2 separate regions of the Homo sapiens genome follow, and region 1 is linked to region 2. The links come from fine-mapping of genetic effects on gene expression. A gene starts in region 2. The other region holds a variant in brackets. All regions are shown on one strand. Distances are from middle to middle.

Region 1 (10,533 bases), 120 kb before region 2:
GGCTGAGGTGGGAGGATGGCTTGAGCCCAGGAGGTCGAAGCTACAATGAGCTATTACTAGACCACTGCACTCCACCCTGGGTGACAGACAGAGCAAGACTCTGTCTCTTTAAAACACAACAACACATTTTAAGAGATCTGGGTGCAAACCACGGTGATGCAGAAAACAAAACATTTTCCAAGGCCACAACAGATTTTCAGTGTAGTATGGCATTAAACATATACACCACCACCGTTTAAGTTTTAAAGTGCTCAGCATAGAACAGATACGTAGAAGGAATAGAGTGAATTTATGCTTCTAAAGTGATTAAGTTTCCTCAAGACTAGAGACACTTCTCTGGTCCTCTACTTTCCCCCATCCCAAAAGAAAAACGTGGGCTTTCCAAAGCTAAAGAATAGGAAGGATATTTCAGGCTGAGTAAAGAACAAGGGTATGAAAGCGTGTGCTGGTTACGCTGGGTATGGCCCTGAGATTACCTATGGGAACTTTTAGGATTCCATGTCCAGCATTTTGAAAATTCCCATATCTTGTTCCCCAATTCCAAGATAGTTCTCTGTTTGGTATTTATCTTGTTTTCAAGAATCAATTAATTATTCTGCTAAAATCATTTAATCAATGTTTACCTTGCAGGACAGTATGTTTCCAAAAGCAGAAAAAGTATCATAAAGTGCCTTGTTATCTATAGATTTGTCCAGGTTCTTGATGAAGACGTTTCCCACACCAGATTTTCTCAAAGAGGGATCCCTCTGAGACCACATGATGCGGATTGGCTTTCCCTTAATCACATCAAAGTTCATGGTGTCCAAAGCCCGCTCAGCTGTAAGAGAGAAACACATTTCAATAAGGAGAGAAAACGTCAGCTCCCACAGGCCAACAGCCTAAGAACAGATTACTCCAGGACTTTTCAAGGTAATCACTCTTGATAAAAGGCAACTCTATTAAAATAAAAGGGCATCAGATTCCTCCAGCCTGCACTGTTAGTAAGGGAAGCATAAGTTCCAGCTAATGACTCTACTTCATGACAGAAGTCTAAACACCCTTCTGGGTCTGTGCCCTTGTTGGATAAAGGGGCCACAAGTAAAGATAATCTAAATGGCCTTAATGACACCAAGATCCAGTGATAATACCTCACATTTGACTAAGCTTTACCACTTAGAAGAGACTTTGCAGACTACCACCCACCATGACTCAGGTGGGACAGCTGAAATTATACATTTTACAAAATGAACAAACTTATGTTTAGGGTAACTAAGCTGTGCAGCTAGCTAGTAATTACGAAACTAATACTAGATTATCTGATTTATTTTTCAGTGAGGTATTGCATCAAAGTTATCAAGTCATTTAGTCTGCAATCCACCTATGGAGACAAGTGACAAAACCTGTAAAGCAAATGATCTGGAAAAAAAAAAAAAGGTGCTATCCCTGAATTCAGAATTCAGTCCAGTTTATTTTCAATTTCTGAGAACAGAAATTGACTTAAACAAAAAAGCATCAGTCATCAAAATGGACACAACTGATCACACATGGAAAAGTTCTCTGTACTATCACAAGGATAAAACCACCATACCTTCTGCCTAAGTAGACAGTGCGCAGATGGCAGGCCCTGCACCCACCTTTTGAAGCCTTAATGGAAGTTCTGTAGAATTCTAGGACTTCAGCTACCCTGGGTGCTCAACCAACTTCCCCATCCAACACCTTGGAATGCTTCCTTAGCTTCCCAACCAAGTCCGTGTGTACACCAGAGACAATTTAAAGAACCAAAGGCTGGGCTGGGTATGGTGGCTCACTCCTGTAATCCCAGCACTTTGGGAGGCCAAGGCGGGTGGATTACCTGAGGTCAGGAGTTCGAGACCAGCCTGACCAACATGGTGAAAACCCCATCTCTACTAAAAATACACAATTAGCTGGGCATGGTGGCGGGTGCCTGTAATCCCAGCTACTCAGGAGACTGAGGCAGGAAAATTGTTTGGACCCAGGAGTCAGAGGTTGCAGTGAGCTGAGATCGCGCCATTGCACTCCAGCCTGGGCAGCAAGAGTGAAACAGTGTCTCAAAACAAACAACAACAAAAAGAACCAAAAGCTAAAAAATAACACCACCTGCCAGCCAAAACACTTCTCATCACTAATCGCAACAAGGATGCCCAGATCTGGTGGCCACTTTTCCTTAAGGCTATGATGGCATCTCCTAACGGTGACATCACCCAGAACCTCCTCCATGAGGGGATTTAGACAGGGTCAGAGCAGTGGAACCTGCTCCTTGCCTCAGGACAACATCTCACTTAAAGGGGGGACAAAATTCCCCAACTCTGCCGCTCCACAAGCTCAACTGTTTCATTAGCCGGGAGAATTTATTTTCACTCATTATTTCCAACAACTTTCCCCACCCCCTTCAGAAGGTGGGCCTCATCTGTGTGGGGGGTAGTTGGGAAAAGGGGAGATGACAAGACCGATCCAAGTCAGGAACAGTCCAGGGAAAGAGGACTTTGCTTGTGATGGCTATCAGAGATAGATAGCTGGGATCGCAAACTATTTCATTAATTAGCAGTAAAGGAGCCCACTTCAACAACAGCTCCTCGTCTATTTCCAGACAGCACTGCACAAGGCAAGCCGGCTTAGTCTGACAAATCTGGCTGCACTTATTTATAGCAGGGAGAAGTCCTGCAGAAGTATGTGTTGGCAGACACACTGACCAATAGCTTCTGCTATCTCTAAGTGACACGACTTTTGTTCAAAAGTCAGTAAGGCAGACAACAGCTAATGTGGTACATTATCCCTTAAAAAGACCACACTCAGCTACCTTTGCGCTCCTATGGCCATGGACAGAACTCAGCTTGGAGCACACTGGATTGACAGTAGCAATACCTAGTCCCTCTCAACATGTCCAATTCTCTGGTCTCAGCCGCAACCTGGGCAGGTAGTAACTCTGGGCCTCAGACAGAAAACAAAGGGGGGACCCCAAAACTAGGGACCTGGAGATGCTTTGCCATAGAATGGCTTGTTTCTCCCAGTAATGATCTCTGCAGTTGTTCCCTTTTAATCTGGAGTCACGTGCAGCCTCTGATCAGGTTTCCTCTGGCCTCCCTCCTGCCACGCCTGCAGCATACCTCTCTCCATGCTCCACGCTAAGGCCACAATCTGAGGTGGCAGAGCACTGTGCTGGGAGTCCTAACTTGGCTTCCAACTTTTTGCATTCGTTCTCCTTCTCAGGAGTCCCATTTTCTTCAGATTAGATGAAATAAAAGGGCTCTGACTAGTGCAAAGCACTGTTACAGCTGAGGTGACAAATGACACCAGATTTTCAAGTGACGCTTCCCTAAACTACCTCCACGACACTCTACAGCACAGAGCCTGGATACCATTTGTCCAGAGTAAAGCACTTCTCCACTCCAGTGGCAAACACACAGACCAAGGAGGTGGCCTGGCACACGCAGCTTTTGTGGCACTAACCTAAGTCTCTGCGAAAGTTTAACGCACAGAAACCTTCCCCCTGCTTCCTGCCTGCCCTGACTGATCCTTTATCAGCACAACATCAGGTAGTCAAGGTTAGTAAAGGTGGCGGAGCGGGCAGGAGCTTTACAATGTAAAACTTTCGCGGGGAATTGTGTTTCAAACGTCCCGCCTTTTTGGCCAGCCTGTGAGGGGCACAAGCAAGGATCTCTAACAGCCCAGCCCCACTGACAAGGACCACACGCAGTGGAATGCCAGTGGCTTCACTCTAATCCTGTTTTACAGTCTCCTTGGTTTCCAACCCCACTACCAGCAACACTAATAAGTAGCCCAAGGTCACCCAGTTAGCAAGTGGTAGAAACAAGATTGAAACTCGAGTCATCTGATGCCAGGTCCGCGTTCTCAATCTCCGCACCCTGCTCCCAGCTTCGGTGGCAACATGCTGTCGTGATGCCGCCCTCCTCGGCAGGAGGGCCCTGCCAGAAGACGACTCCCGGGGTCCTCCGGGCTCCCACGCACGTGTGGGCACAGCTTCTACTCACCGTCGGCCGGCTGCTGGAAGTTGACGTAGGCATAGCCCAGGGAGCGGCGGGTGATCATATCGCGGCAGACCCGGATGGACAGCACAGGCCCCGCGGGGCTGAACTTTTCGTACAGCATGGCCTCGGTGACGTCCGAATGCAGGTCGCCCACGTACAGGGAGGCCATGGGGTAGCTGCTGGCCGCAGCGTTCATCTCCCCGCCCCCCACCACCCCGAGCCCCGCCAGGAGGACTTCTTATCGGGCCCGCCGCAGGACAAAGGGGCGCCTTCGGAGCCCGGGCCCGCGCCGCGGCTCACAGGTGGCACCGGCGCGGCGAGGACGAGCTGGAGTCGGCGGGCTTGGAGACGGGACGGAAACGGGAGGCGGGGGCCGGCTCCCACGGCCGCAGCACCGCAGACAAAAGGCTCTCCGCACAATACGGCCCTCCCCGCGACTTTGCACTTCTCCGCGGTCCTGGTGCGAAGCTCCAAATTTCAAAAAATCAAAGTAGGAAAAAAATTAAACGGGGAATCCCCTTCCGAAGGGTAAAAATCCTTTAAGAGGCGACCGGACGCTGCCCACGGCGGCCTCGGGGACACGCGTTTCTCTATAAATATAGGCCTCGGGCTCCGGCGGTTTAAGATTACAACCGCCGGGGCAGAGGGAAACCAAATCTTTGTGGGCGCCGACTCGGCGAGCCCCGGGCGGGCGGCGAAGGGCAGCACGGACACGTGGTGCGCCGGGGCAGGCGCGGGGCGCGGGGCTCGGGGCCCGAGCGGGGGGAGGGCACGGCGGGCCGGGCGGGCGGCTCACCCCCGGACCGACGGACGGAGACCGACGGACGCCAAGCGCTGCGGCGGCG[G/A]GCGCGGGGCAGGCCGGAAGCGTACGAAAGTGACTTCCCCGCGGGTTCTCCGAGGATTCGTTTTTTCTTTTCCTTTTTTTTTTTCAGGATTTTGAAGCGTTTTCAGATTTTTTTTATCTTTTTCTCTTTTTTTCCTCAGGCTGCGAAGCCCGAAAGCGGCGGAGGCGGCAGCGACCCGGGGCGGAGAGAGGCGGCCGAGGGAGCCACCGCTCCATTTATACCCGCCCGCCCCGGGCGCTGCTGGTCGAAGGGCGCCTCGCGACCTGGGCGCAGTCGTGCCCGCCCACTCGGCCCGGGGGCCCGAGGCGGGGCGGCCACGCGAGAGCGACCCGGCGCGGCCGCGCGGCGCTACAGCGACCCCTGGCGCCGGGAGGACCGCCCAGCTCGCGGCTGCGGGAGACCCCAGGGCCCCTTTCTATAACAAATAAATCTTAACACCCTCCCACCCATCACCCGGGAATGGAACCTAGGAGCCATTTAACCTGCACACACGCATGAGGTTTAAAATTAAATGGTATGGGGCTGGGTGCAGTGGCTCACGCCTGTAATCCCAGCACTTTGGGAGGCCGAGGCGGATGGATCATGGAGGTCAGGAGATCGAGACCATCCTGGCTAACGCGGTGAAACCCCGTCTCTACTAAAAATACAAAACATTAGCCGGGCGTGGTGGCATGCGCCTGTAGTCCTAGCTACTCGGGAGGCTGAGCAGGAGAATAGCTTGAACCCGGGAGGCGGAGGTCGCGGTGAGCCAAGATCGTGCCACTGCACTCCATCCAGCCTGGGCAACAGAGTGAGACTCCCTCTCAAAAAAAAAAAAATTAAATGGTATGCCAAATTGTGAAATGAAGGTGACATAAAATAAGTTAAAATAAAATAATAGGTGGTCCAATAGGTAAATGTCTGGGTCCAAATACAATAAAGATTTGAGAAGTTTTCAGGATACCGTTGACCTAGAGGTAGAATCGTCAGGAACTAGAAATGCAAGCAGTATCCATGGGTGATGGGATTTTCTGAAAAGATGAGCACATTTTGGTAAAGCTTCAATGAAACCAAACACAAGCATCCCCTCTATTGACATGCTGGTGGCATTCCCGGACATTTAGTTTGTGTTTAAGGGCACAGAAATACTTTCTGTTCCTATGTTTAAAGTTTCTTCTAGGCTTGGATAATTATAAAAAGACTTTTCATCTGCATGAGAGTCTGGCAGGTCATTTGAAAGTCGTATCACAGGCCAGGCGTGGTGGCTCACGCCTGTAATCCCAGCACTTTGGGAGGCCGAGGCGGGCGGATCACTGAGGTCGAGAGTTCGAGACCAGCATGACCAACATGAAGAAACCCCCGTCTCTCCTAAAAATACAAAAAGTAGCCAGACATGGGGGTGCATGCCTGTAATCCCAGCTACTCAGGCGGCTAAAGCAGAAGAATCGCTTGAACCCGGCAGGCAGAGGTTGTGGTGAGCTGAGATCATGCCATTGCACTCTAGCCTGGGCAACAAGAGCGAAACTCCGTCTCAAAAAAAAAAAAGTCATATCACTTTATAGGACTATGTTATATGGGACTGTCCACACGCATTACAAGATATATAGCATCCCTTCTTCCATAAGTGCCAGGAACCACCTTTGCCATCACTGTGAAAACCAAAAACAGAAATTGCCAAAAGACACAGACATCCCCCTTCAAAAGCACTGATTTAAGTAAATGACTAAAGAAATATGTGTATTTATATATTAATTAATTCAAATAAATGGTTAATCTGAGCCTACTCTATGCCAATGTCAATACAGGGGCTGGAGATACCATGGTGGACCAGAAGTCACTCCCTCTCTCATGGAGTTTATATTCTAATAACTATATTAAATCAAGAAACATTGGCTGGGCACGATGGCTCACACCTGTAATCCCAGCACTTTGGCAGGCTGAGGTGAGCGGATCACCTGAGGTCAGGAGTTCGAGACCAGCCTGGCCAACATGGTGAAACCCCATCTCTACTAAAAATACAAAATTAGCCGGGCATGATGGCACGTGCCTATAGTCCCAGCTACTTGGAAGGCTGAGGCAGGAGAATCGCTGGAACCCAGGAGGCAGCGGTTGCAGTAAGCTGAGATCATGCTACTGCACTCCAGCCTGGGTGACAGAGCGAGACTCCGTCTCAAAAAAAAAGGAACATTTATGGGAGTGCTCCTTCTATAGATTCCCTCCTCAGGAAAGTCTTCCTAGACCTCCTGTGGTCTAAAGTAGCCGTCAACATTGTTAATCACTATCACACCAACTTGTCTTCTTGTCTTCAAGCCTGTTATTCCTACCCAAAATTATGTTGTTCTATATCTGTTTACCTGTTTAGTATCTATCTTTTCCACATTGGTATATAAGCTTCATGAGAACAGGAATCTAGAATAGTGCTTAACATAGCACGTACTAAATGTTCAGTAACTGGCCAGGCAGGTGGCTCACACCTATACTCTCAGTGCTTTGGGAGGCTGAGGCAGGAGGATCGCTTGAGCCCAGACATTTGAAACCAGCCTGGGCAACAGAGTGAGACCCTATCTCTACAAAAAAAAATTTTCTTTTAATTGGCTGGGTGTGGGGACACATGCCTGTGGTCTCAGCTACTTGGGAGTCTGAGGTAGGAGGATCGCTTGAGGCCAGGAGTTGAAGGCTGTAGTGAGCTATGATCATGTCGCTGCACTCCAGGCTGAGCAACAGAGTGAGACTCTGTTACTAAAAAATAAATAGATAAATAAATATTCAATATATGTTTGTGTGTGTGTGTGTGTGTGTGTGTGTGTGTGTGTGTGTTTTCTTGTTTTTTTTGTGGGGGGGGTATGAAATCTTCCTCTGTCACCGAGGCTGGAGTGCAGTGGTGCAGTCTCGGCTCACTGCAACCTCTGCCTCCCAGGTTCAAGCAATTCTCATGCCTCAGCCTCCCAAGTAGCTGGGATTGCAGGCATGCGCCACCACACCTGGCTATTTTTTTTTTTGAAACCAACTCTCGCTCTATTGGCAGGCTGGAGTGCAGTACTGCGATCTAGGCTCACTGCAACTTCCGCCTCCCGGATTCAAGCAATTCTCCTGCCTCAGCCTCCCGAGTAGCTGGGACTACAGGTGCGTGCCACCACACCTGGCTAATTTTTGTATTTTTAGTAGAGATGGGGTTTCACCATGTTGGCCAGGATGGTCTCAATCTCTTGACCTTGTAATCTGCCCGCCTCGGCCTCCCAAAGTGCTGGGATTACAGGGGTGAGCCACCACGCCCAGCCTTTTTTTTTTTTTTTTTTTTTTTGAGACAGAGACTTGCTCTGTCACCCAGGCTGGAGTGCAGTGGCGTGATGTCGGCTCACTGCAACCGCCACCTCCCGGATTCAAGTGATTCTCCTGCCTCAGCCTCCCAAGTAGCTGGAATTACAGGCACCCACCACTATGCCCAGCTACTTTTTGTATTTTCAGTAGAGATGGGATTTCACCATGTTGCCCAGGCTGGTCTCCGACTGCTGACCTCAGGTGATGTATTCGTCTCGGCTTCCCCAAGTGCTGGGATTACAGGCGTGAGCCACACACCCAGCCTGTGTATTTTTTTTTTTGTTTTTTTGTTTTTTTTGAGACTGGGTCTCGCTCTGTTGCCCAGGCTGGAGTGCAGTGGCGCGATCTTGGCTCACTGCAAGCTCTGCCTCCCGGGTTCACGCCATTCTCCTGCCTCAGCCTCCCGAGTAGCTGGGACCACAGGTGCCCACTACCACGCCCGGCTAATTTTTTGTATTTTTTAGTAAAGATGGGGTTTCACTGTGCTAGCCAGGATGGTCTTGATCTCCTGACCTCGTGATCCGCCCACCTTGGCCTCCCAAAGTGCTGGGATTACAGGCATGAGCCACTGCATGTATTTTTTTTTAAGCAACAAAGTCTCACTGTGTTGCCCAGGCTGGAGTGCAGTGGCCTGATCATAGCTCACTGCAGCCTCAAACTCCTGACCTCAAGCGATCCACTTTGGCTTCTTAAAGTGTTGGGATTACAGGCATAAACCACTGCACCTGGCCTAAATATTTGTTAAATAAACAAATGAATACTAGGCACAGATGAGCAAAACCCACACAAGCTCTGACCTCCTGAAGCTTATTGTCTATTGGGGGAGCTTATTACCTATATTACTTTGGGCAAGCTAGTTCACATCTCTGACCCTCAAATTTCTCATCTGAACTATACTAATAAACCTTATTAACAATTAAAAGGGTTATTGTGAGAATAAATGAATACATATAAATACACATAAATTGTTTGGATTAATTTTTTTTTTGAGATGTCTCACTTTGTCGCCCAGGCTGGAATGCAGTGGTGCGATCTCAGCTCACTGCAACCTCTGCCTCTCAGGTTCAAGCGATTCTCCTGCCTCAGCCTCCCTAGTAGCTGGGACTACAGGCATACATCGCCACACTGGGCTAATTTTTTGTATTTTAGTAGAGACAGGTTTTCACAATGTTGCCCAGCCTGGTTGCGAACTCCTGAGCTCAGGCAATCCGCCCCCACCTCAGTCTCCCAAAGTGTTGGGATTACAGGTGTAAGCCACCATGTGCCCAGCCTTGGATGAATGTTAATAGCTATTACTATCAAGCTACATTTGTACTAAGAAAGGAGGCGGAGGCCGGGCGCGGTGGCTCACGCCTGTAATCCCAGCACTTTGGGAGGCTGAGGCAGGCAGATCACCTGAGGTCAGGAGTTCGATACCAGACTGACGGACATGGAGAAACCCCATCTCTACTAAAAAAACAAAATTAGCCAGGCGTGGTGGTGCATGCCTGTAATCCTAGCTACTCCAGAGGCTGAGGCTGGAGAATCACTTGAACCGGGGAGGTGGAGGTTGCGGTGAGCCGAGATTGCGCCATTGCACTCCAGCCTGGGCAACAGGAGTGAAACTCTGTCTCAAAAAAAAAAAAAAAAAGTAAAATAAAAAGAAAGGAGGGGAGTCCCTAAATGAAGTCAGGGAGAACAGCATCTATAAAGGCCCTAAGTGCCAGGCGTGGTGGCTGCCGCCTGTAATTGCCTGTAATTCCAGCACTTTGGGAGGCCAAGGAGAGCAGATCACCTGAGGTCAGGAGTTTGAGACCAGCCTGACCAACATGGTAAAACCCCGTCTCTACTAAAAATAGAAAATTAGCCGGATGTGGTGGCAGGTGCCTATAATCCCAGCTACTTGGGAGGCTGAGGGAGGAGAATCATGTGAATCCGGGAGGCAGAGGTTGCAGTGAGCCAAGGTTGTGCCACTGCACTCCAGCCTGGGCGACTGAGAGAGACTCTGTCTGAAAAAAAAAAAAAAGCCCTAAGGGAGACAAACTGTGGAGTTGTGGGAAATGAAAGAGATGGCCTTAAAACACTTAGGATTTTATCCTCAGATCAAAGAGTAAAGCTGCAGGATTTTAAGAGCAAAGTGCCTTCGCTCAAATTACTTTTTTCTTTCTTTTTTTTTTTTTTGTTTTGAGAGGGAGTCTCACTCTGTCGCCCGGGCTGGAATGCAGTAGTGGGATCTCCACTCACTGCAAACTCCGCCTCCCGGGTTCACGCCATTCTGCTGCCTCAGCCTCCCGAGTAGCTGGGACAACAGGTGCCTGCCACCACGCCCGGCTAATTTTCTGTATTTTTTAGTAGAAATGGGGTTTCACTGTGTTAACCAGGATGGTCTTGATCTCCTGACCTCGTGATCCGCCCGCCTGGGCCTC
Region 2 (9,093 bases):
GAACACAATCTTAGTTACCTTCATTTTTTCCCTTCCCTTTGCCCTAGGTCTAACTTGCCATCAAGTCCTGTTGTCTCTTATTTTGAAATGCTCTTGGTACCTTCATTATGTCCATAGCCAGGGACACAGCCGAGGGGGCTGAAATCAAGCTATGCTCATGCCCATGGGGCTTCCCTGCCTGGCAGGAAGTGCCTTTCTTTTGATTCCTCTGTTAGGAGGGAATGGCTTTTTCCCCCCGAAAGTTACAATATAGACTAGAAGTAGCCATGCCCATGGGCCCCCTGAAACTCTAGAATCCTCTAGAATCTGGTCTCAAAGTGCCCACCTATCTCGCCTCAGCTCTCATTGCTCACTCACCACCGCATACTCCTCTCAAGCCAGCCTTCTCACAGCCAGACACGCCTCACCTCTTTGCTAAGCTATTTTCCTCTCCCCTAATATCCTTTCTTCTCTCCTGGACTATAATCAGTCTTCAGGGCCTGGTTGAAGCCTGCTTCCTTATGATCAGCCTTTTCCAGTCTGGACAGTGGAGAGTCAGCAGCCCAAGCTCAGCACTTTGGGCATGAGTCAGTCCCCCACAGGCGTGTAGACTTCATAGCCCTCTGACCCTCACCTGGTGCTGTAGAATTCCAGGATGCAGTCTGATTTGAGACAGGTCTTTGCATTAAACCCCTGCCTGAGTCAGAAAAAAAATCCTCCAGACCTTTTTGCTCAATGGCAAGGAGTTGATCCCCTCCAATATGCCCCAGTCCACTTTTGAGCAGGTTGAAGCGTGAGAAAAGTTTATTTTTCCCATGGGGAAAATAAAAGTGCTTTTCCCTATGCACTCACTTCTCCCAGTGAGTGCTTAGTCCTCACTGAGTCTGGGACCCATGAGAGCAGGGGTTTTTTCTCTCTTATAGCTCCCCTACCCTGGTTCCCACCCTGCCTTCTGTGCCTGCACAGAACTGCTCTGTGGAGACGCAGTGGCAATGCCTAGGACACAGTGATGTTCAATGAATGTCTCTTGGTGGATTACGTAAGAGGAGCAGAACCCCCTTCTTCCTCCCTGGATCTATGTCAGGCTGTTTTGTTTATCTGTGTTCTCCTGCTATCACACCCACTTCAGAGACAATGGAACCCAGACCTAGGGGAAGGAAGGGTTCACCCCAGGTCAACTATAGCCCATCAGCAGCAAAGTGAAGGCCAGAACCCAGCTGGGGACATGCTCTGCTGGAGCTGTGGCCCTGCTGAACATGGGCAGGCTCCTCTGCTTACCTCTTGAGGGCTGTCCTCCAGCTATGAAGGAGCTGGGACTGTCCCATACACAAAACCATTGTCCCAGTGTGCCCAGAGGTTTCTTCAAGAGGGCTAAGGGCTGTGGGCTTTGAATGGAGAGGTGGCTGAGGCTTTGAATGGGAGGGACTGAAGGAGGCAATAATCCCACACCCTCACCCAGCTTCAGAGGAGCTGGTACTGAGGTGGTTGCCATGGTGACAATAGCTCCCTGGTCAGGAGATTTTTTCTCTCTTTCCTCTCCTCCCTTTGCTCTTCCCCAAGCAGCAGCAATAGCAGCAGCAACCAGGTCTTTTCCCTCTTCTTCTTAATGAGAGGCAGGGGATGACAAACAAAGAGTAATCCCAGCTGGCCACCTACAATTTGGAGCTGTCCATGTCAGGATGGGCTGGTGGTCTAGGAGGGACTCCTAATAGAAGGGGCCTGGAGAATGTGTGGGAGGAGGTAGCCTGTACCTAGGCTGGTTAAGAAGGAATGTGTCTTCAGTGAGTTCTAAACCAACCCCGCCCCCCTCAGGTCTCCTCTCTTTAATGTCCTCTTGGTTCAGGATCCTGTTTTTCCATAATCAGCCATAGAACCAGAGTGTCTCAGTGCCAGAAGGCTGTTCAAGTTCATCTCACCCAGTCTACCCTCTCTGTTATACCTCTCCCCATTTTCATGAAGGATCAGAGAGGGGAGTGACTTGGCCAAAGTCAAACTTTGGCTGTACAAGATTTGAACCCAGCTCATCTGCCCTCCAGGTATAGTTCACTTTAGGGCCAAGAGCAATACAGCCCACATGGCACCTTGGCAAGGTCCCCACGGAGCAGCAGGAAGGTGGGAGAGAGGGAGCAAATAGTCATACAAATTAGAAAGACATTTGACAGGCAGAATGAGAGGATTTGGTGCCTGGCTGTGAGGGGGGAGGGAGGAGGTATGGAGGTTGGGGCCTTGGCAGCAACTGGACTGACGGTATGGGTGGTCTGCTGGGGGTGGTGTCTTTGGTTCATCCTCCCGCCAGGATGAGAGATGCCAAATATGGGGCCTCTGCCTAGCACTGGGGGCCACTGGGGAGGGCTGTCGAGACTGTGAGGAGAAAAACTGGGGAAGGGGGATTGTCCCCCCCTCAGGTATGCTGTGGGCTCTGTCAGCTTGAGGGGTGGGATGTGGGGACAGTGTCTGGGGACAACAAGGAGGGAGCGCTCTGTGGAGGGGGAGGCTGTCTTTGGGGGCAGGGGCTCCCTGATGAGAAGTGGCTAGGGGCTATCCGTGGAGGTGGGAGTTTGCCATGGTGCTGGGCAGACAACCCATATCCAAACAGGAGGGAGGGTGACCAGCGCCTCCAGCTAGCACCAGCGCCACCACACCCCCAGATGTGTGTGTGTGCATCTGTGTGTGTATGTGTGTTTGCGCGCGTGTATGTTGGGGGCCATAGCAATGGTTGTTCTCACCTGAGCTGGGGATAAGTAGGCGGCTCTGCCTCCTTCTCTGCACCCATGGGCCTGGACTGAGGTGGGGGGTCTCCTGCCCAGGGGTGGGCTCTTCAGTTGCTGCCGCCTAAGGCGGAACCACGGGTCAGGGAGGTGAATCAGGGCAGGACATGAGGATGGGAAGGGAGAGTGGAGGGGGAGGGGGCCAGGGCCTCCGCCCGGTGGGTTTGTTGCCTTGAGGACCCGGTCCCACTCGCATTACCTGAGGCCGGTCGCCGGGTCGCTGGATGGCTCCGAGCCTCGGCGGGCCGCGGGAACCGAGGCTGGCTCGCGGGCCGGCAGCTGTGCTCTCCAAGGTCTGCGCCGGAGCCGCCTTCCAGCTCTTGTATCACTATGTGCCTCCCGAAGGCGACACTATTTGCATAAGCCCCGCCCCATCCCGGGCAGGTTGCACGGCTATTGGCTCCTCTGGAGCGGAGTGGCAGGCGGGGTTTCAGGTGGGGACCGGGTGGCCGGCGAGGCCCGGCCGCAGGAGCGCGCCCCGCCTGCCCGCGCTGACCTTCCCGGAGTCGCCGGGAAGCGGGAGGGCTGCACCCCCATCTGCACCCCTGCCCTGAGGCTCAGCCCCCGGCTTACAAGTCTGGGGTGGAAAGGGTCGACGATGAAAGTGGATTCTCAAAAACAACCTCACCGTTGCTATGGAAACGGGAGAACCACAGCCGAATCTCTAAGCTTCCTTTCCTGGGCCCCAGCATGGGTGGGGGCGGAAGAGGGGATGAGTCACAAGATGAGACCCCCCCCCACACCCATATCCCACCCGAAATTGGGAGGGGCCAAAGAGGAGCTGGGGAGGAGCTGGGTGGGAGAGGGAGGAGGTGGCTGGTCAGCAGTCCACATCTCTGCGTCCCCCCTCCCCACGCATCCACTCCCCTCACGCCGTGGGGCAGAGAGGAGGGTGCTGGTTGCGCGCGGAGAGCGCGGTATGGGTGGCGAAGTCCCAGCCTCTACCTAGCCCCGCGCTAGTCGTGGGTTCCCTCCAGCCACCCCTCTGGCCCTTCATTCCGGTCCCTCCCCAGACGGGCCCTCCTCCTTTCTCATGGACCCCCAAGAGGCCTCTCGCGTTCTCCCCCGAAGGACCCCTATGCCTAGCCATGGATCCTCCATTCCCCACCCTCCCGTTTTCCCGTCCCGCAGACGGAGCCGGTCCCCAGCCGCCGCCAGTCTCCGGCCTCGGATGTTGACACAAACCCGAGGCGGTTTACACTGAGCGGGTCTGGAAGCTTTCAGGGCCCCGGCAACACCTCCTCCCCGCACTTGGGGGTCTCCCCACAGCCCGGGCCGGCCGCCTGGGCTGCACTGGCGTCTGAGAGCTCCTGACACAAGGCTGTGGGAAGGAACCCTTTTAAGCCAAACTGGGGGCAAAAGGGGAGCCAGACATCCCCGGGCTGGGCCACGTGCGGGGCAGGGACTTCTAAGGATCTGTCGAAAGTCGGGGCGGACGGCTGGGGATTGGCCTAATCGGAGCGCGGACGCTGAAGAGCAGCGGTGAGAGGCGGGGCTTCTGTCCGCGCGGCGAAGGTAGAGGTGGGCTGGGCGGGGCGATGGAGGATGGGGTCAGACCTGCCGCGAGTGGGGGCGAGGCTTCTGGAGCTGGTCCCAGAAATGCCTGGGCCAGGCTCGCTGGGGGAGGAACCCGTGGACGTCCCTTTTCTTTAGGACCTGTCCCGTTGCCCCTTGAAACGGTTTTGCTCTACCATTTTCGAGGCTGCGGACTATGCCTTCTCTCTGCGGCCTTAGCGGGGGCTGAGGGCTCCAAGGAACCTGCAGCTGTAGGAGAAGGCGCGTCCTTGGCACTATGGGTTGGTGACTCATGAAAGACAGGTGTTTGAAGCTCTAACTCTTTCACTTCTCTGATACCTTCTCAGCTCTGGGTCTTGGGGACCCAGAGATGAGCGAGAACCCCCCTTGCTCACAGTTAACCATAATCCAAGGCGTGAAGAAGTGGGGAGAGGCAGCACAGGTTACTAGAAGTGGTATCTGAAACCCTAACATTGACTGACCCAAGTTCATATTGCTAACATTGAGTCTCATTTTTGCCAATGATTCCATTTACGACCGTGGGCAAAACCCTTCTCATTCTGGGCCTCCCAGTCTGTGAAATGTGGGAGCTGGCTCAAGAGGTCCAGAGGAGCAGGGGGAAATTTTCAACCAGGTGGGTGAAGAAAGACTGTCCCTTGGACAGAAGTATGTGGACATGAATCTGACTGCTCCACTTAAGAGTCCTGAGCCCCTTAACAATAGCTAATGTGTATCGAGAGCTTACTTTGTGTCAGGTGCTATTCTAGCATATTATATGTTACCATATAATATAAATTGGGAATAAGTTACTCAATTTATTCCCCATAAGAGCTCTGTGAGGCAGGTTCTATTATTACTCCTACTTAACAGATGAGGAAATCAAGGCACAGAGCGGTTAAGTGACTGACCCAAGTTCACATTGCTAGTAAAGAGAGCTCCAGTGCTGGGATTTGAACCCCAGCAGTCTAGCCTCAGAGCCCACACTCCTAATCAGTACACAATACTGCCTCTTCTTATGGTCCTTCAAGTCCTTAAGGGTAAGGACCTTAGATTGGAATATTTGTTTCTGATTCCCCAAGGTATTAGAAAGGCAAAATCCAGCCTCCTGGGCAGCCCTTCTGTCTCAGGTGAACAAGATATGGGATTCCAGCAGTACAGTAAACTAGAAGTAGTGAAAACAAGAAGCCCTCCTGGGCTCACACCCAGGATTTATGCCTGTAATCCTAGCACTTTGGGAGGCTGAGGCGGGTGGATCACTTGAGGTCAGGAGTTTGAGACCAGCCTGGCCAACATGGCAAAACCCTGCCTCCACTAAAAATACAAAATACAAAAATACAAAAATAAGGAGGCTGAGGCAGGAGAATCGCTTGAACCCAGGAAGCAGAGGTTGCGGTGAGCTGAGATCACGCCACTGCACTCCAGCCTGGGCAACAGAGTGATATACACACACACACACAAAAAAAAAAAAAAAAAAAAAAAAAAGCAGCAGCCCTCCTGAACTGCAAGGGGGCCAGAGTGTGGCTTCTCCTGGCCATCCTATCCTCCAGGCATGACTACCCATGCAGCCTCACCCATGAATCATCTTGGGGCCATGTGACTATTCCTGAACTGCCAGTCATAACCCAGCTTCACCTGTTCATCATACTCAACTTTGAGGCCCTGATATTGGACCCTGCCTCTGTTCCCTTCAGTTTGATGTTTAAAGCAATAACAGCTGACATTGACTGAATTGCCTCACTGTGTACCAGACTATCTGCCAAGTCCTTTATCTGCATCATCTTACTTAATCCAGAAGATGACCACTACTAGGGATGATATTAAAAATATCTAACACTCCATTCAGGCATGAGCGTTATCAATCAGAATGGATACTGGCCTTAGTGCTAGATCAAGGTCTTAGTAGCTCTCTGTTCTGCCAAGAGTTAACACTTAGGTTATTGGATCAGTCAGGCAGGCAGGGAGAAGCAAGCATAGTAAGGAGTCAAAGGCTATGGCTGTTTACCAATCAATTTGGAAGTACTTTTATGTTTTAATAACCAGTTTAGCTGTACAGTGCATAGGGACTGAATTTCAGCCCTTGTTTCATTACTTTATTTCATGGCACAGGATGGAGCCTCAGAAAGGTTAGACAACTTGTCCATTGTAACACAGCTCGTTAGTCAAAGAGCTGGGATTCCCACCTAGGTCTGACTTCAGAGCCCACACTCTTAACCACTGGCTGACTTGTGTTCCTGAGAAGGGGTAGCATCCAGAATTGAGTTGGGATTTCCACTATTATGAGCCAGAGGAATGTGGCTTAAGTTTTGGGGCTTTGTCATGGCCTTACTGTTCTCAGGCTTGGAGTCTTGGCAAACACCTGTTCCACGTTGTTGAAGGAGCAGGCTCTGCAGAATGAGGAGGCAAAATCAAGCTGCACTGAAGGACAGGGTGGCTGTACAGGAGGCCCCACAAAGGGGCATGGAGGGGAGTGAGCCCAGCAGGGTTTGGGTGAGGACAGAGGTCTGCAGACAGTGGCCACTTCAATTTGTTTCATCTAAGTGCTAGCATTCCTCTCCTCCTTGGTCCTGAACAGTGCCTTTATGATGGATAGTGCCTTCCTGATTCCCTGGGTTTTCTCTGCCTTGGCTAGTGCAGCCTCCTGACAGCTGGAATTCCCCTAGGTCTTAGATAGTTCACCATCTTCTTTGTGGCTGGGAGAGAGTGAGATCACCAGAGTTGGATTCCTTCCTTTTATGCTATTGGCTAAGCACGATTTTTTTTAAGAAGTCTCTCTATTATTTGGAAGAAGGAGAAGGAAAAGAAGAAGGAGAAGAGAAGAGAAAGAAAAGAAGGAAGAAAGAAGAAAGAAGAAAGAAGAAAGAAGACAACAACTACAGAGAGAGTGGAAGTTCCCTATAACTCCTTGCATGATAACTGCAGGGGACCTTGTGGTTTTGCCTGTCCTGAATCTATTCCCTCTTATTCTATTGGAGAAGCCATATGTATAATGGGTTAAGTGCACAGACTTACAGCCAGGTTGCCTAGGTTTGCATCCCACAGTTGTCACTTACCAGCTGTGTGACTACAGGCACATTACTTTATCTCTCTGTGTCTCTGTCTCTTTATCTGTAAAATAGGGATAATAAAAATAGTATTGGCCGGGAGCGGTGGCTCATGCCTGTAATCCCAGCACTTTGGGAAGCCAAGACAGGTGGATCACCTGAGGTCAGGAGTTTGAGACTAGCCTGGCCAACATGGTGAAACCCTATCTCTACTAAAAACATGCCAGGCTGGGAGCAGTGCCTCGCGCCTGTAATCCCAGCACTTTGGGAGGCTGAGGCGGGTGGATCACCTAAGGTCAGAAGTTTGAGACCAGCCTGGCCAGTATGGTGAAACCCTGTCTCTACTAAAATACAAAAACATTAGCCGGGCATGGTGGCACACACCTGTAATTCCAGCTACTCAGGAGGCTGAGGCAGGAGAATTGCTTGAACCCGGGAGGCGGAGGTTGCAGTGAGCCGAGATCACGCCACTGCACTCTAGCCTGGGCGACAGAGCGAGACTTCATCTCAAAAAACAAACAAACAAACAAACAAACAAAAAATAAAATAAATAAATTAGCCGGGACTGGTGGCGCACACCTGTAATCCCAGCTACTTGAGGAGCTGAGGCAGGAGAATCCACTTGAACCCGGGAGCTGGAGGTTGCAGTGAGCTGAGATGGTACCACTGCACTCCAGACTGGGTGACAGAGTGAGACTCCACCTCAAAAACAAACAAACAAACAAAAATAGTGTTTATTTTATAGGGCTACTCTGAGGATTAAAATGAGTTAATATATGCAAAGTGCTTAGCACAGATTTTACTTTGAGGAATTACAGTGTATAGTAATAGCACCCTATTATGTACAGTTGTGGTGGAAACTATCAGCTCAGGTGTCTTGCTTTCTCTCTCTCTCTCTCCCCTTCTCTCTCTCTCTCTCTCTCCCCCAAGCAAATCTGAATCTTGAGTAAAGTGACTCAAGGATGTAGATAGTTAGCACTGCTTTATTCCAGAGCAGTGCCCTAATGACCCTGTCTATTCATTCCTGCTATCTGAATCCCGTCTTCTGCTTTTCCTTTGAGTCAGTAAGCCATCCCACATCTCTTCCCCAGATTTATGTTTTAAACTTAGGTTATCTAGAGGTGATTTATGTTTGCTTTCAGGGAACATATATTAATTTGATATATTTCTTTGTCAGTTATGACTTGTTGCAAGGTACAGAAAATCCACCCTATGATGGGTTAGGCAAAAAGAGAATGTAATGGCTTAAGTAAAGAAAAAAAAAACAGAAATAGATTGGACTTTAGGGCTGGCTGGATTCTAGGGCTTAAACAACGTAATTAATACCTGACCTCTTTCCAAGGCTCAGCTCTGCTCTCTTGAGTGTTGGCTTAATTCTCGAGATCCACATAAAGACAAGATATCTGTGGGCATCTCCAGGCCAACATACTGTCAGGTTGGAGTCCCACAGAAAAGAAGAGAGCTTCTCTTTCCCACTGCAGCCAAAGTCCTGGGCTGGCTCTCATTGGCCTGATTTGGAGTCCATGCTAATTTCAGGGTCAATCGCTGAAGACAGGGGTATGCAGTACTCAGATTGGCCAGGCTTGAGTCATTTTCCTACACCCAGAACTGGGAAGTCAAGTCAAGTCCTCCCAAAGCATATGCCCCTGCCACCACACTAGGGAAGGAAGGTGTTCCTTCCAAGAAAGGGGTGAATAGATGCTTGGTGGAGAAAAACAATAGAGGTGCCTAGAGTTTATAAGAACACATACAAGCTGTACTATCAAGCAAGTGGCACTCAAAGGGATAAT

The links.
Region 1: its variant is fine-mapped to the expression of HPCAL4 in whole blood (INTERVAL, PIP above 0.99).

The regions. Positions count from the first base shown.
Region 1 is chr1:39,571,770-39,582,302 of GRCh38, forward strand. It overlaps PABPC4 (poly(A) binding protein cytoplasmic 4), which reads right to left and starts at 5,021. Exons shown (of 16, transcript NM_001135653.2): 1 at 3,990-5,021; 2 at 624-817. The coding sequence starts at 4,182. PABPC4-AS1 (PABPC4 antisense RNA 1) reads left to right here. Exons shown (of 4, transcript NR_125979.1): 3 at 686-909; 4 at 1,312-1,434. RefSeq lists enhancers at 3,706-3,825, 3,846-3,895, 4,396-4,465 and a silencer at 4,966-5,275. The variant G/A (reference allele first, on the strand shown) is at 4,832.
Region 2 is chr1:39,688,360-39,697,452 of GRCh38, forward strand. HPCAL4 (hippocalcin like 4) reads right to left here and starts at 3,074. Exons shown (of 4, transcript NM_016257.4): 1 at 2,947-3,074. RefSeq lists silencers at 1,350-1,576, 2,851-2,930, 3,151-3,380 and an enhancer at 3,453-4,043.